Linked DNA regions of Homo sapiens: region 1 is linked to region 2. A link means that fine-mapping ties the variant in region 2 to the expression of a gene that starts in the linked region. Tissue or cell type: whole blood. Region 2 holds a variant in brackets; the other region holds the start of a gene. Each region is shown on its reference strand, or each on the opposite one. Region 1 holds the start of ZNF547 (zinc finger protein 547). Region 2 overlaps SP110 (SP110 nuclear body protein).

Region 1 (5,540 bases), not on the chromosome of region 2:
TGTTGCTTTTATTTGCAATTCCCTAATAACACACAATAAGTATCTTTTTTAAAGGCAGGGTTGTTTTGTTTTGTTTTGAAATGGAGTCTTGCTCTGTTGCCCAGGCTGGAGTACAGTGGCATGATTTCGGCTCACTGCAACCTCCACCTCCCGGGTTCAAGCGATTCTCCCACCTTAGCCTTCCAAGCAGCTGGGACTACAGGCACCCGCCACCATGCCCAGCTAATTTTTGTATTTTTAGCAGAAATGGGGTTTCGCCATGTTGGCCAGGCTGGTCTCGAACTCCTGACCTCAGGTGATCTGTCTGCCTCGGCCTCCCAAGGTGCTGGGATTACAGGTGTGAGTCACTGCGCCCAGCCTGGCTGGGGTTTTTTTATGTGAGTTTCACACACCTCTGAGTAAGTGGCTTGCAGACAGAGAAGTTAACAACTTTGGCTGTTAGCTTGAACCTGTGATTTATGAATACCAAAAAGACAAATACAGAATCTAAGGAAACACATAACAGTCCTGTATACACACAGCAGCTGGCAGCCCTATTCCCGGTGTGTCCCATATACCTACCATTGACCTGAAACCCAGTTTGTACGTGCTCATTGAACATTTTGTAGAGCAGTAAATACACATCATCACACAGATTGCCTACTCATTTTTATTTTTATTTTTCGAGACGGAGTCTTGCACTGTCACCCAGGCTGGAGTGCAGTGGCGCGATCTCTGCTCACTGCAACTTCCACCTCCTGGGTTCAAGCGATTCTCCTGCCTCAGCCTCCCAAGTAGCTTGGATTACAGGCACCCGCCACCATGCCCAGATAATTTTTGTATTTTTAGTAGAGACAGGGTTTCACTATGTTGGCCAGGCTGGTCTTGAGCTCCTGACCTCGTGATCCGCCCACCTCGGCCTCCCAAATTGCTGGGATTGCAGGCGTGAGCCACCGCACCCGGCCTTCATTTTTATTTTTTGACAAGTGTTTCCATTTGTTATCTCTATCCCTCCAAACAGTTAATAAGCGATGTTTTCAAGTATGAAATAAGAAATACATATAGGAGACAGAAGCATAATGTGTCCAGGTTCCAGCACAGCCAGTCTCAACTTCATTCTTTGACTTCTCAGACTCTTGCTCAAACTCTACTGTAACCTTGCTTTTTCCCCCCTTCACATGTCACAGAGAGATTTCTGTAGGACTATTTCTGCCACTAGTTTTGAAATAACATAATCACTGTTAGTCCAAACTGCACCATCCTGTAAGCCCCCTGCCATCTCACAGACCTTGGTCAGAGTGAAGCATTCCACGGAGTGAGGGCCTTGAGAAACATCCTGCCCAACTGCCTGACTTTCTTATCACATCGTTCTGGGAAAAGATCCAAGGAAGGTCACTATCACATCCTGCCGGATAAAAGGCCAAACTGCCTCAGGAACATCTTACGCACATCCTTTGGCCGGGTGCTGTGGCTCACGCCTGTAATCCCAGCAATTTGGGAGGCCGAGGCGGGCGGATCACCTGAGGTCAGGAATTCCAGACTGGCCTGACCAACATGGTGAAACCCTGTCCCTACTAAAAATACAAAAAAATTAGCCGGGCGTGGTGGCACGCGCCTGTAAAGCCAACTACTCGGGAGGCGGAGTTCAAGAATCGCTTGAACTCCGGGAGGCGGAGGTTGCAGTGGGCCGAGATCACGCCATTGCACTCAAGGCTGGGCGACAAGAGCGAGACTCCTCCAAAAACAAAAAAAAACCCACCATCCTCCTGGGCAGCAAGTCATACCCTCCCGCCGCGCCCCCTGCCCCCCACCCCTGACCCCTCTCATCCAGGCCTATAATTGCCCCAGCCTGTAAGCAGTGAGGGGTTCTGGCACTAAGCTAGTTCTCCCCATCACAGGTCTCGTGCTGGACATAAAACCTGCATTGCTGTAGAGCTGCCAACTCTGCCTTTCTTTAACCCTCGCCTTCCCTTCAAAACCTAACAGTTATTATTAATAGATTTCTGTAATTTTCATTTCACAAGTATTTTCACAGATAATTTCAACTCCCTGTAAAATGATAACTCACTTCTCAGGAAGGAGATAAGATCATGAAAGTTCACAGTTTTTATTGGGGATAATACGTTCCCTGTGTACATATACTCCAACTATGGAATGGCACAAAATGTCCTGTCAGGAAATGGCATGTATCAGTCACTCTCATTTTCAGACAGGATTGAGACTTTTAAAATAAATGTAAAATATTTCAGACATGAAGTAATAAGTATTATTAGAATAAAAGCATTGCACTCTTGGTAGGAACACAATCACTGACTCTACAGACAGTAATGATGTTTTCTTCTGGATCCAGAGGCACAGCGTCACCCTTTCAATCTACGTCGGTATCTCCTGTCTTCTTTTGTGCAAATTCCCAGCCATGTAGTCTTTCTTTGTTCTCTTGGACCAACCATATTGAAGCTTAATAAATAGAAGTCAAAGTTTAACTGTATGTGTATTTGAAAAGCAACATATGGCTGAGAGGCATGAGTAGAGACAGAGTGCCTTTGTGGTATAGTGTGTCCCTTTGGCGGTGTAGCCGTTGAGAACTTGCTGTGCTTCACAATCCGATATCATAGGTCCCTCACATTTCTGTGAGTATCCTAGACCTTACTTCAAGAAAATCTGGTTATGTCGCCTTTAAGAGCAACCCAAGCCCCGTCCTGTCCGTGGAGTCCGGCACTCTGTTTACCAGCTCCCCTGACGGTGCCACTGAGCCTCTATCCGCCATATAAGGACTGACCAACGCTCTAAGGCAAGTCCAGAAGCGGTGTCGAAACTTCATAACCCAGAAGACACTGCGGTTCTCGGCAGCGCGACTGACCCAATGAATGTGCAGGAAGGAACCTTTGCGTGCGTGCGTGCGTGCGTGCGTCCGTCCTCGTGCTCGCGCATCGTAGGAGGGCGGGACTTCCGGCGTCCTCTTGCCGTGGTTGATTTGATTTTCTCTGGTGTTTTCACTAGTTCCGGCCTTTGGCGCTCTATGACGTCACCGAAGTGACGGAGCGGAAAAGCGCGAGAAGCGGCTTGGTTCCTTGTACGCAGAGGCGGTAGTGACACAGGCACAACTGACAGTGGCAGAAGCTCAGCTGACAAGGACTGGGGACGGCGGTGTCCTTGTCTTGCCTTTGTCGCCCCCGCCCCTCTCTTCCCTGGCTGGACTTGCGGAGTCCCCGCCGAAGAACCCGAGGTGGGTGCCCCGTCCCAGGCCCCCCCCCACCTCCGCCCGACCCCTCCTTCCAGTGCTGAAGCCCATAGAAGGGGCCCTGCAGGTCAGGCCCCTTGTCTCGAAGAGAGGGGCGTTCCTGTGTGGGGTCCCCGTATCAGCTGGTTTGATGCAGCCTCAGAGCTCCCTTCGGGGATCTCAGGTTCAGAGCATGGAGGTGCTGCCAAGTGGGCCGCGTCGGGGAGCCCGGAGTGTGGGTTGTTTCTGCGGGAAAGAGAGGGTTTTGTGAATTTTCTCTTGGAATGGCAGCCTGAGCAGCCGGTATAACCATGGAAGGTTGTCAAGGGAAGACCAGTGGGAGGGGCAGGTCCAGAGTTAGAACGAGCAGGATGGGGAATTGACACAGAGAGACCCAGAAGAGGCCACTGCAGTGGATCCCAGAGGCTGCACCAGAGCCGTGGTATAAGAGGGACAATGTGATGGGATTCTGGATAGACCTGGAAGATAGAGCCAACAGGTTTTCCTGCCGTATCAGATATGTCTGTGAGCAAAAATAGGGAGTGAAGGGTCATTTTTTTTTTTTTGCCCGAACATCTGAAAGAATGAAGTTGGGGAAGTCAGCAGCATGAGAAGTAGGTTTCATGGAGAAGATCATGGGTTGGAGTTTGGCCAGTGTGATTCTCAGGCGTCTCAAGTTGAAAATGTCACATGGGTAGGGGGACAGAAAGGTGTGGAGTCTACAGAGGAGAACTGGTGTAGATTCTTCAAAAGAATAGAGGGTGGCCGGGCGTGGTGGCTCACGCCGGTAATCCCAGCACTTTGGGAGGCCAAGGCGAGCGGATCACAAGGTCAGGCGTTCAAGACCAGCCTGACCAACATGGTGAAACCCCGTCTTTAGTAAAAATACAAAAATTAGCCGGGGGTGGTGACGCGCGCCTGTAATCCCAGCTATTCGGGAGGCTGAGGCAGGAGAATTGCCTGAACCCAGGAGGTGGAGATTGCAGTGAGCCAAGATCGCGCCATTGCACTCCAGCCTGGGCGACAGAGCGAGATTCCGTGTCAAAAAAAGGTGCGGAGCGCGGGTCTCTTCCGCGGAAACTGACATTGCGTTTCCGTTGTCGGCCTCCCGCTGCAGGAGCCATATATTGAAGACCATGTCTGGAAGCTTCTACTTTGTAATTGTTGGTCACCATGATAATCCAGTTTTTGAAATGGAGTTTTTGCCAGCTGGGAAGGCAGAATCCAAAGACGACCATCGTCATCTGAACCAGTTCATAGCTCATGCTGCTCTCGACCTCGTAGATGAGAACATGTGGCTGTCGAACAACATGTACTTGAAAACTGTGGACAAGTTCAACGAGTGGTTTGTGTCAGCATTTGTCACCGCGGGGCATATGAGGTTTATTATGCTTCATGACATAAGACAAGAAGATGGAATAAAGAACTTCTTTACTGATGTTTATGATTTATATATAAAATTTTCAATGAATCCATTTTATGAACCCAATTCTCCTATTCGATCAAGTGCATTTGACAGAAAAGTTCAGTTTCTTGGGAAGAAACACCTTTTAAGCTGAATGGAGAAAATTCCAAAATAAATTATATCACCACAATGGTGTATACTCAGGAATGTGTACATTGTAAATTACTTGATTAAATAGCCTGGAAATCTTTTGTGTATTCTCAGCTTATCTAAACTTAATGAAATTTCTTTTATATTTAAAAATAGTACATTCTGTCTCATGTCACATATCAGTAGATCAATTAGTATTTCCTTGTGAACAATGTTATTTATAAAGAACTCATTATCAATAATAATTAATTTCTTTCTTTTTTTTTTTTTTTTGAGACGGAGTTTTGCTCTTGTTGCCCAGGCTGGAGTGCAGTGGCACAGTCTCGTCTCACTGCACCCTCCGCCTCCCAGGTTCAAGCAATTCTGCCTCAGCCTCCCGAGTAGCTGGGATTACAGGCTCCCACCACCATGCCTGCCTAATTTTTTTTGTATTTTTAGTAGAGACGGAGTTTCGCCATGTTGGTCAGGCTGGTCTTGAACTCCTGACCTCGTGATCTGCCTGCCTCGGCCTCCCAAAGTGCTGGGATTACAGGCATGAGCCACCACTCCCGGCCATGAAATATTTTTACTTAAAAATTGGGAATAAGCTTTCTTTTTCTTTCTTTCTTTCTTTTTTTTTTTTCTTTTGAGATGGAGTCTGGCTCCTGTTGTGCAGGGGCTGGAGTGCAGTGGCACGATCTTGGCTCACTGCAACCTCCACCTCCCGGGTTCAAGCAATTCTCCTTCTTCAGCCTCCCAAGTAGCTAGGATTACAGGCATGCACCACCACGCCTGGCTAATTTTTGT
Region 2 (5,000 bases):
TTCTTATAGAATTTTTCTGGTTTCAGGTCTTAGGTTTAAATTTTTGATCCATCTTGAGTTAATTTTTGTATAAGGTGGGAAATAGGGATCCAGTTTTATTCTTTTACATGTGGCTAACCAGTTTTCCCAGCACCATTTATTAAATATGGTGTCATTTCCCCAATTTATGTTTTTGTATGCTTTGTCAAAGATCAGTTGGTTTTAAGTATTTGGCTTTATTTCTGAGTTCTCTATTCTGTTCCATTGGTCGATGTATCTACTTTTATAACAGTATCATGCTGTTTTGGTAACTATAGCCTTGTAGTATAATTTTAAGTCTGGTAATGTGATGCCTCCAGATTTGTTCTTTTTGCTTAGGATTGCTTTGGCTTTGCAGGCTCTTTTTTGGTTCCATATGAATTTTAAGATTTTTTTTCCAGTTCTGTGAAAAATGATGTTGATATTTGATAAGAATTGCATTCAATCTGTAGATTGCCTTGGGCAGTGTGATCATTTTCATATTGATTCTTCCAATCCATGAACATGGGATGTGTTTCTATATGTTTGTGTCATCTATGATTTCTTTCAGCAGTGTTTTGTAGTTCTCCCTGTAGAAATCTTTCATCTCCTTGGATAAGTATATTCCTAGGTATTTTATTTTATTTTGTTGAAGTTGTTTTAAAAGGGATTGAGTTCTTGCTTTGATTCTCAGCTTGGTCACTGTAGGTGTATAGCAGTGCTAATTTGTGTACATTTGATTTTGTAACCTGAGACTTTACTGGATTCATTTATCAAATCTAGGAGTCTTCTGAAGGAGTCTTTAGGGTTTTCTAGGTATATGATCATATAATCAGGGAACAGTGATACTTTGATTTCTTTTCCAATTTGGATGTCATTTATTTCTTTCTCTTTTCTGATTGTTCTGGCTAGGACTTCTAGTACTATGTTGAATAGAAGTGGTGAAAGTGGGCATCCTTGTCTTATTCCAGTTCTCCAGGGGAATGCATTAGATTTTTTCCCATTTAGTATCACATTGGCTGTGGGTTTGTCATATATGACTTTTATAACTTTGAGGTAAGCCCCTTCTATGCCTAGTTTGTTGAGGATCTTTATCTAAAGGGATGCTGGATTTTATCAAATGTTTTTTCTGCATCTATTGAAATGATCTATGGTTTTTAATTCTGTTTTTGTGATGTACCACATTATTGACTTGCATGTGTTAAACCATCCCTAAATCCCTGGGATTAAATCCACTTGATCATGGTGTATTATATTTTTGATGGGCTGCTGGATTCAATCTCACTGTTTGTTATTGGTCTGTTCATGGTTTCTATTTATTCCCAATTTAATCTAGGAGGGGTGTATGTCTCCAGGAATTTATTTATTTCCTCTAGATTTTTCTAGTTTTTGTGCATAGAGGTGTTCATAGTAGTCCTGAATGATCTTTTGTATTTCTGTGGTGTCAGTTGTAATGTCTCCAGTTTCATTTCTAGTTGAGTTTATTTGAAACTTCTCTCTTTTTTTTTGGTTACTCTGGCTAATGTTCTATCAATTTTGTTTATCTTTTCAAAGAACCAGCTTTTTGTTTAATTGATCTTTTTTATTTTTTGTTTCAATTTTATTTCATTCTTCTCTCATCTTTCTTTTTTTCTGCTAGCTTTGGGTTTCTCTAGTTCCTTGAGGCATGACATTAGGTTGTCAATTTGTGATCTTTCAGACTTTTTGATGTAGGCATTTAGCGCTATGAACTTTCCTCTTAAAAGCACTGCTTTTGCTGTATCCTAGAAGTTTTGATAATTTATGTCACTGTTACCATTCATTTCAAATAATTTTCTAATTTCCGTCTTAATTTCAGTGTTAACCCATAAATCATTCAGGAGCAGATTATTTAATTTCCATTTATTTGTTATGGTTTTGAAAGTTCCTTTTGGAGTTGATTTCTAGTTTTATTCCACTGTGATCTGAGGAGATACTTAATATAATTTCAATTTTTTTCTTCTAAAAAACCCCCCAAAATGGGACACAC[G/A]TGCAGAACATGCAGGTTTCTTACATAGGTATGCATGTGCCATGGTGGCTTGCTGCACCTATTGACCCATCCTCTAAGTTCCCTCCCCTCACCACCCACACCCCAACAGGCCCTGGTGTGTGTTGTTCCCCTCTCTGTGTCCATGTGTTCTCAATGATCAACTCCCACTTATGAGTGAGAACATGCGGTGTTTGGTTTTCTGTTCCTGTGTTACTTTGCTGAGGATGATGGGTTCCAGCTTCATCCATGTACCTGCAAAGGACATGATCTTATTACTTTTTATGGCTGCATAGTGTTCCATGATGTATATGTACCACATATTCTTTATCCAGTCTAAATGCTGGATTCTTTATCCAGCATTTGGGTTGGTTCCACGTCTTTGCTATGGTAAATACTGCTGCGATAAACATACATGTGCATGTGTCTTTACAGTAGAATGATTTATATTCCTTTGGATATATACCCAGTAATGGGATTGCTGTGTCAAATGGTATTTCTGGTTCTACATCCTTGAGGAATCACCACACTGTCTTCCACAATGGTTGAACTAATTTACACTCCCACCAACAGTGTAAAAGTATTCCTATTTCTCCACAGCCTCACCAGCATCTATTGTTTTCTGACTTCTTAATAATTGTCATTCTGACTGGCATGAGATGGTCTCTCATTGCAGTTTTGATTTGCAATTCTCTGATGATCAGTGATGTTGAGCGTTTTTCCATATGTTTGTTGGCTACGTAAATTTTTTTTTTTTTGAGAAGTGTCTGTTCATATCCTTTGCCCATTTTTTGATGGAGTTGTTTGTTTTTTTCTTGTAAATATGTTTAAGTTCCTTGTAAATTCTGGATATTAAACCTTTGTCAGATGGGTGGATTGCAAAATTTTTCTCCCATTCTGTAGGTTGCCTGTTCACTCTATTTCTAGTTTCTTTTGCTGTGCTGTAGCTGTTTAGTTTAATTAATTCCCATTTGTCAATCTTGGCTTTTGTTGTAATAGCTTTTGGCTTTTTTATCATGAAGACTTTGCCCATGCCTATGTCTTGAATGATATTGCTTCAGTTTTCTTCTAGGGTTTTTATGGTTTTGGGTTTTACATTTAAGTCTTTAATCCATCTTCAGTTATTTTTTGTATAAGATGTGAGGAAGGGGTCCAGTTTCAGTTTTCTGCATATGGATAGCCAGTTTTCCTGGCACCATTTATTAAATGGGGAATCCTTTTGCCATTGCTTGTTTTTGTCAGGTTTGTTGAAGAACAGATGGTTGTAGATGTGTCGTGTTATTTCTGAGGTCTCTGTTCTGCTCCATGGTCTATATGTCTGTTTTGGTACCAGTACCGTGCTGTTTTGGTTACTGTAGCCTTGTCGTATTGTTCAAAGTCAGGTAGTGGGATGCATCCCGTTTTATCCTTTTTGCTTAGGATTGTCCTAGCTATATGGGATCTTCTTCGATTCCATATGAAATTTAAAATAGTTTTTTTTTCTAATTCTGTGAAGAATGTAGAGACAATATACCAGAATCTCTGGGACACAGCTAAAGCAGTGTTAAGAGGAAAACTTGTAGCACTAAATGCCCACATCAGGAAGCTAGAAAGATCTCAAATGGACACCCTAACATCACAATTAAAAGAGCTAGAGAGGCAAGAGCAAGCTAATCCAAAAGCTAGCAGAAGACAAGAAATAAGTAAGATCAGAGAAAAATTGAAGGAGATAGAGACACAAAAAACCCTCAAAAAATCAATGAATCCAGGAGCTGGTTTTTTGAAAAAATTAACAAAATAGATCACTAGCCATATTAATAAAGAAGAGAGAGAAGAATCAAATAGACAGAATAAAAATGATAAGGGGGAATATCATCACTGATCCCACAGAAATACAAACTACCATCAGAGAATACTATAAACACCTCTACACAAATGAACTAGAAAATCTAGAAGAAATGGATAAATTCCTGGACACATACACCCTATCAAGACTAAACCAGGAAGAAGTTGAATCCCTGAATAGACCAATAACAAGCTCTGAAATTGAGGCAGTAATTAATAGCCTACCAACAACACAAAACCCAGGACCAGATGGATTCACAGCTGATTCTACCAGAAATACAAAGAGGAGCTGGTACCATTACTTCTGAAACTATTCCAAACAATTGAAAAGGAGGGAACTCCTCCTTAACTCATTTTATGAAGCCAGCATCATCCTGATACCAAAACTGGGAAGAGACACAACAAAAAAAAAGAAAATTTCAGGCCAATATCCCTGATGAACATCAATACGAAAATCCTCAATAAAATAATGGCAAGCCAAATCCAGCAGCACATCAAAAAACTTATTCACCATGATCAAGTCGGTTTCATCTCTGAGATGCAAGGTTGGTTCAACATACACAAATCAATAAGCATAATCCATCACATAAACAGAACCAAGACAAAAACCACATGATTATCTTGATAGATGCAGAAAAGGCCTTTGATAAAATTCTACATCCCTTCATGTTAAAAACTCTCAATAAACTAGGTATTGATGGAACATATCTCAAAATAATAAGAGCTATTTATGACAAACCCACAGCCAATATCATATAAAATGGGCAAAAGCTGGAAGCATTCCCTTTGAAAACCAGTACAAGACAAGGATGCCCTCTCTCACCATTCCTATTCAACATAGTATTAGAAGTTCTGGCCAGCACAATCAGGCAAGAGAAAGAAATAAAGCGTATTCAAATAGGAAGAGAGGAAGTCAAGTTGTTTCTGTTTGCAGATGACATGATTATATACTTAGAAAACCCCATCATCTCAGCCCAAAAACTTCTCGAACTGATAAGCAACTTCAACAAAGTCTCAGGATACAAAATCAATGTGCAAAAATCACAAGTATGCCTTTACACCAACAATAGGCAAGCAGAGAGCCAAATCATGATGAACTACCATTCACAATCACTACAAAGAGAATAAAATACCTAGGAATACAGCTAACAGAGGATGGGAAGGACCTCTTCAA

What was found. PIP is the estimated chance that this variant, and not a neighbour inherited with it, causes the effect.
Region 1: it holds the start of ZNF547, and the variant in region 2 is the best candidate, but not a certain one, in a credible set for the expression of ZNF547 in whole blood (TOPMed, PIP 0.66).

What each region holds. Positions count from the first base shown.
Region 1 is chr19:57,360,499-57,366,038 of GRCh38, forward strand. ZNF547 (zinc finger protein 547) reads left to right here and starts at 3,053. Exons shown (of 4, transcript NM_173631.4): 1 at 3,053-3,205. It overlaps TRAPPC2B (trafficking protein particle complex subunit 2B), which reads left to right and starts at 3,053. Exons shown (of 2, transcript NM_001355204.2): 1 at 3,053-3,205; 2 at 4,317-4,907. The coding sequence starts at 4,336. The coding sequence ends at 4,758. RefSeq lists enhancers at 2,606-2,685, 2,726-3,105.
Region 2 is chr2:230,187,599-230,192,598 of GRCh38, forward strand. The region is part of intron 10 of SP110 (SP110 nuclear body protein); the gene reads right to left. It also overlaps a transcript of SP140 not described here. Among named protein-coding and RNA genes, the nearest start is that of SP110, 30 kb to the right of the region's middle. The variant G/A (reference allele first, on the strand shown) is at 2,006.